Linked DNA regions of Homo sapiens. The protein of the gene in region 2 interacts with the protein of the main gene of each other region in a pairwise test. Each region holds a gene or a part of one and is shown on either strand. Other genes may lie near its edges.

Evidence for each region. Proteins that work in one complex are often made in the same cells at the same time.
Region 1: the proteins of ZNF670 (region 2) and TSGA10 interact in binary tests that used the Homo sapiens proteins (3 or more experiments, as listed by UniProt).

The regions. Positions count from the first base shown.
Region 1 is NC_000002.12:99,106,443-99,109,942, forward strand, and holds part of TSGA10 (testis-specific gene 10 protein), read right to left. Parts: intron 3,115-3,500; coding exon of another isoform or gene 2,998-3,114; coding exon 2,947-2,997; intron 2,550-2,946; coding exon 2,391-2,549; intron 1-2,390. UniProt on the Homo sapiens protein: Plays a role in spermatogenesis. When overexpressed, prevents nuclear localization of HIF1A.
Region 2 is NC_000001.11:247,068,812-247,072,311, forward strand, and holds part of ZNF670 (zinc finger protein 670), read right to left. Parts: intron 1-3,500. UniProt on the Homo sapiens protein: May be involved in transcriptional regulation.

The DNA of each region.
Region 1 (3,500 bases), on a different chromosome or scaffold from region 2:
CACTTTCTCCCCTGCCTTCAGTCATGTACAGTGCTCCCTTATCTTGAAAACCTGTCACTTGATCCTGCTGACCAATTTACCATCCTATGTCTCTTCTTCCTGCGACACATTAAAAAAAAAAAGTCCCATGGTCTATAACTATTGCCAATGGTTCCTTACCATCCATTCTATCACCCCAGAACAACCTGGCTCCCACCCTCCCACCTTCTGTGGAATTTCAACTAAAGACCTAACCAAATATAATGGTCTTTTCTCAGTTCCTGTTCTCCTTGATATTTCAGTGGTCTGTTGCTGCTCACAACATCCTTCTTCTTGAGATTCCTTCCTCCCTTTTAACATTGTTCCTCCCTAGCTGTCTGTCATCTTTGTCTCTTTCAAAGGTTCCCTTCTGCATCTTGAATATTATAACTTAACGTTTCTGCTCCTCTATGTACAGTTTTCTCATTCAGAGACTTCATCCACTCTGAAGGCTCGAAGCTCACCTCTAAGCAGATGACTTCCAAAGCTAACTATTTAACTCTTGCCTCTCTCTACTCCAGTCCCACATTTCTTACAGTCTGATGGCAATTACGACCTGAGTGTGCTATCATTATCTTACTCTGTCTAAAAACAAACTCACATCTTTTTCCTCAAACCACCAATGACTCTCCTATTTTTTATTTTATTACCACATTGCTGAGTCATTCAAGACAGAATTTTAGTCACTGTCATGCAACCCTCCTTCTTCCTAAAAGCAAATCATGTCAAATCTTCCTTCACAGGGTCTTTTGCATCTGTCCCTATATTTATCTCCATTGAAACACCCTTGCTTAGTCCCTTAATGCCTTATATGTGCACTAGTGTAACAGCCTTCTAAAGAGGAGTCCATGGTCTCTCCCTCCATCAATTCTCTCAAAGGAGAAATTGTTAAATAAGAAGACAGTATAGAAAGATTATGTGAGAAATAAAAATTTGCCATAAGGTTAAAATTGTAAAATTGTAAAAATGATACTTTGTTCATATTTTGCCTGCCTTTAAAAAAAAAAGATTGTTTGTTGCTTATGAAGCAAAATATAAACCCCATATAAGGCCCATTGAACAGCCTGTACCATTTAGTCCAGAAGTCAGCAAGCTATATATAACTCACAGGCCACATCTAGCCTGCCTCCTGTAGGTCTGTAAGTGGAGAAATATTTTTGCATTTTTAAATGGTTGGGGAAAATATCAAAAGAGTATTTTAAAACAAGTAAAAATGATGTGAAATTCAAATTTCAGTATCCATAAAGTTTTACTGTAATACAGCCAAAGTTATTCATTTATGTATTGTCCAAAGCTGCTTTCACCCTACAACAATAGGGCTGATTAGTTACAACAGAGACCACATGGCTTGCAAAGCAGAAGATATTTTTTGTCTGGGCCTTACAGAAAAAGTATATTGATTCCTGCTCTAGTGCAATCTTACCTTTCAAGTCTTAGCTCTCTCCCTTCTCCACTGACACATACCCTCTATTCTAGTCTTAAACCAATTTATTTATCTGCTGATTTTCCTACCTTTATCCTTTGCCTCATACCATTCCTTTAGTTTGGATTGTTCCTTCTAGCCCCTTTCAGGGTAATAGAAACTCCATTCATTTTTCAGGGCTCACACTTTGTATCTTTTAATAAAGATTTCCTTGATCACCATATCTAAAAATGCCCACTTCTTTTGTTTCTTATAATATCTTCTAGACCACTTAATAAAAATCAATAAATACAATATACTTTATCTCCCTAACTAGACTGTAAATTTATAGGAAAACATGGTCAGCATCTTATCATTTTTCTATCCCTTAGAGTAGTGAGCCTAGAACCCTGTGTATAGTAGCTATAATTTGTTAAAAAATTGTGATACTTTTAAAAGAAGTTATATGGGTGATTTATAGGATTTAATACTTGTTGGGTTAAAGAAGGTATTTGATTAATAAAAGCTATGCAATTCTAAGCTAGAAAGCAGAGATAAACTACATACTTCTTTTATTCTCTAAAATTAAGCAAATTATATAAAAGTTCCTAAAGTGATGTGATAAGGTGTGGCAAGTTCAAGGTAAAAAGGTCAGGATTTGATCTTTTTACCTTGAACTCATAACAACTTATCATTTAACGGTTTCTTCATATCTTATTCCAAAAATAAGACTATTTTTATACATGTGTATGATTTTTGGCTATGGGGATAACATACGTGTGTACTCACATACCTACTGTATTGGAAATGTACTACATTTCATTAAGAATATCTTAAAAACATATGTAATCCCCAAATGTTAGATTAACTTGATTTGCAGGTTTAAGCAGTCTCATAAAACTCAAAGAAGAATTACATAACTCTAGAACTCAATGTTATTACTTATATAATTTGTTTTTTGTAAGTTTACCTGTTCATAAAGAAGGAAGATCTTGTCTCTCTCAGATTTAAGAACCTTGACATTACCCTGAATTTCTGCCAAATGGCGCTCATATTTTTCCAGCATGCATTTAAGTTCTTCACGATCTCTTGTTGTTGTCTTCAAAAGTTCTACATCACAGTTTGCACCCTATAATTATATAAGGAATTTGAAATCTTCTTTGATATATAGTACTGATAGAAAGGTGCTACTGATGGTAGTGCCCAATTTCTATTTAAGAAAATAAGACTATATAATGAAAGGAAATTATAAAAAATAAGTTTAAAAACCACATCTTTTTAAAACAGCTTCATTCCAAATTATTCCACATTTGCCTGATTACCTCCCAAGTGCTAATTATGCTGAGGATAAAGAACCAATATCAGTAGTCTACTGTGCCATCAAAGAGACCTCTGTCTCTCAACCCCTTTGAAACAGCAATTCACAGCAAATCAAAACAAATTATTTTCAAATTAGGTAAAACAAAGAATAAAAGCCAGTGTCTGGGCAACAAACTCCAAAATATTTGTAAGTTTATAAAACCTACCCGGGCAGTTGGTGATGGGCGTCTTGGACTTTTAGACCTACTTCGCATCATCTTTCTCAAATGTTGAGCTTCACTCTTATAGTGATCTTTGTCTGCTTCCAAAGTCTTGACAAAGGAATCAAGTCTAGAAGGAGATTTATTTTGTGCTTTTTCAGTATCTAAAATTATCTTGCCAAAGAGGAAAAAATTAGACCATTATTTCAAGCTAAACTATAGCATCATTTTCTAAGTGAAATTGAAAACAAACAGGATCCTTAAAAACATTTAATTTGGTATTTTTTAAATACAACATTTAAAAAATTATATATCAGTAATTTTTAAAAAGCAGTTAGATATCTTTCTTTTCCAGGATTTCTGGGTATGCTATATTTTAACTGAAAGATAATTTTGGAGAAAAAATGGTAAAGAAATTTTAGAGAGGCCAGAAATGTCCACAGACCTAGCACACATCCTAGAAATGGCATGGATTTGCTTTAGAAAAACATATGCTACTAGGCTGGGCATGGTGGCTCATGCCTGTAATCCCAGCACATTGGGAGGCCGAGGCGGGCAGA
Region 2 (3,500 bases):
CTGGGGTACTATTTTGCCAAAAAAAAAAAAAAAAAAAAGAATGAGATCCAGTCGTTTGCAGCAACAACACGGATGGAACTGGAGATCATGATGTTAAGCAAAATAAGCCAGGCACAGAAAAACAAATATCGCATGTTCTCACTTATCTGTGGGATATAAAAATCAAAACAACTGAACTCATGGGCATAGAGAGTCGAAGGATGGTTACCAGAGGTGGGGAAAAGTAGTGGCGAGCTGGAGGAGAGGTGGAGACAGTTAATGGCTGACAAAAAAAAAATACTTAGAAAGAATAAAAAAGACATACTATTTGATAGCACAAGGTGTCTACAGTCAATGATAACTTAATTGTACATTTTAACGTAACTTAAAGAGTGTAATTTGATTGTAACTCAAAGGATAAATGCCTGATACCCCATTCTCCATGAGGTGCTTATTTCACATTGCATACCTGTATCAAAACATCTCATGTAATCCATAGATATATACACCTTGTATGTCCCCAAGAAAGTTAAAGAAGACAAAAAAAGGTAACAAATGCTGGCAAGGATATGGAAAAAAAGAGAATCCTTGTACACAGCTGGTGGGAATGTCAACTAGTACAACTACTATGGAGAACAGTTTGAAGGTCTTTCAAAAAAAAACTAAAAAGAAACCTGCCATATGATCCAGCAATCCTCCTGCTAGGTATATAGCCAAAAGAAAGGAAACCAGTATGTCAAAGAGATATCCACACTCTCGTTTGTTGTAGCACTGTTTACGATAGCCAAAATTTGGAAACAACCTAAGTGTCCATCAACAGATGAATGCATAAAGAAAATGTACATACACACAGTGGAGAACTATTCAGCCATAAGAAAGCATGAGAGCCTGTCATCTGCAATAACATGGGTGGAACTAGAAGTCATTAAGCTAAGTGAAATAAGCCAGGCACAGAAAGACAAACAGCACAAGTTCTTACTTATTTGTGGGATCTAAAAATCAAAACAACTGAACTCATGGACATGAGTCAAAGGATGGTTACCAGAGGTTGGGAAGTGTAGTCAGGGGGACTAGGGAAGAGGTGGGGATGGTTAATGCGTATTTAAAAAACAGAAAGAATAAGTAAGACCTAGCATGTGACAGCACAACAGGATGATTATAGTCAGCAATAATTTAATTGTACACTTTAAAGCAACTAAGTATAATTGGATTATTTGTAATACAAAGGGTAAATGCTTGAGGGGATGGACACCCCATTCTCCATGATGTAATTATTACAAATTGCATCCCTGTATCAAAATATCTCCTGTACCCCATAAATATACATACTTAGTATGTACCCACAAAAATTAAAAATAAAAAAATTAAGAAAAAAAACATCGATTAAAGACTTAAATGTGGCCAGGCATGGTAGCTCACACCTGTAATCCCAGCACTTTGGGAGGCCGAGGTGGGCAGATCACGAGGTCAGGAGATCAAGACCATCCTGGCTAACATGGTGAAACCCCGTCTCTACTAAAAATACAAAAAACTAGCCAGGCGTGGTGGCAGGCGCCTGTAGTCCCAGCTACTTGGGAGGCTGAGGCAGGAGAATGGCATGAACCCGGGAGGCAGAGCTCGCAGTGAGCCGAGATCACGCCACTGCACTCCAGCCTGGGCGACAGAGTGAGACTCCGTCTCAAAACAAACAAACAAACAAACAAAAAGACTTAAATGTAAAACCTGTAAGTATAAAAACCCTAGAGGAAAACCTAGGACATACCATTATGGACATAATCCTTGGTAAATATTTCATGACAAAGTCTCCAAAAGCAATCGCAACAAAAACAAAAATAAATAAGTGGGACCTAATCAAACTAAAGAGCCTCTACACAACAAGATAAACTGTCAACAGAGTAAACAGACAACCTACAGAATACAAGAAAATATTTGCTATCTGTGTATCTGACAACGGTTTAATATCCAGGATCTATAAGAAACTTGAACTAATCAACAAGGAAAAATGGCAAACAACTCCATAAAAAAATGGGCAAGAATATGAACAGACACTTCTCCAAAGAAGACATACACATGGTCAAGAAGTGTGTGAAAAATTATGCTCAACATCTCTAATCATTAGAGAAATGCAAATCAAAACCATCCAGTCAGAATAACTATTACAAAAAAGTCAGAAAATAACAGATGTTTGCGAGGTTGCAGAGAAAAGGGAATGCTTACACGCTGCTGGAGGGGATGTAAATTAGTTCAGCCACTGTGGAAAGCATTTTGGAGATTTCTCAAAGACCTTAAAACAGAACTACCATTCAACCCAGCAATCCTATTACTGGGTATATATATCCAAGGGAATCTGAATCATTCTACCAAAAAGACACATGCATGTGTATATTCACTGCAGCACTATTCACAATAGCAAAGTCATAGAATTAACCTATATGCCCAGCAACAGTAAAATGGATAAAGAATATGTGGTACACATACATCCAGGGACAATTACACAGCCATAGAAAAAAGCAAAATCACGCCCTTTGCAGCAACATGGATGTAGTTGGAGGCCATTATCCTAATCAAATTAACACAGTGGCAGAAAACCAAATACTGCATGTTCTCACTTATAAGTGGGAGCTAAACGATGAGTACACACAGACACAAAGAGTTAAATAAACACTGGTCATACTTGAAGATGAATGGTGAAAATAGGGTGAGGGTCTAAAAACTACCTATTGGTTACTATGTTCACCACCTGGGTGATAAAATCATTTGCACACCCAGTCCCACCAGTGATATTTGACCCATGTAACAATCCTGCACATGCAGCCTCTAAACCTAAAATAAAAGTTGAATAAGAAAAAAAGAAACTGGTGAATGATGAAGGTCTGAATATGAAGGTAATAAATTACATGCCTTAAAGTAATATGAAACCTTTTATACCGTACATTATTTATACTGTTATTTTTTAAATTTGAGTTATCTATTTTGAATTTTCATTAAAACGTAAGAACTCATTTATAAATTGGGTAAAATACCTATTGCTAAATATTTGTATTTCCTTTCACAGTTTTATTCTTTCTTTCTTTTTTTTTTTTTTTAGATGGAGTCTCACTCTGTTGCCCAGGCTGGAGTGCAGTGGTGCAATCTCGGCTCACTGCAAGCTCCGCCTCCCAGGTTCATGCCATTCTCCTGCCTCAGCCTCCCAAGTAGCTGGGACTACAGGTGCCCGCCACCACGCCTGGCTAATTTTTTGTATTTTTAGTAGAGACGGGGTTTCACCGTGTTAGCCAGGATGATCTTGATCTCCTGACCTCGTGATCTGCCCGCCTTGGCTTCCCAAAGTGCTGGGATTACAGGTGTCAGCCACTGCGCCCAGCCACTTTTTTTTTTTAAACAGCGTCTCACTATGTTGCCCAGGCTAAAGTGCAATGGTGCAATTACAGCTCACTGCAGCCTGGAACTCTGAGGCTCAAGTGATCCTCCCACCTGAGCCTCCCAAGCAGCCGAGACCACAGCTCCGCACTGCCATGCCT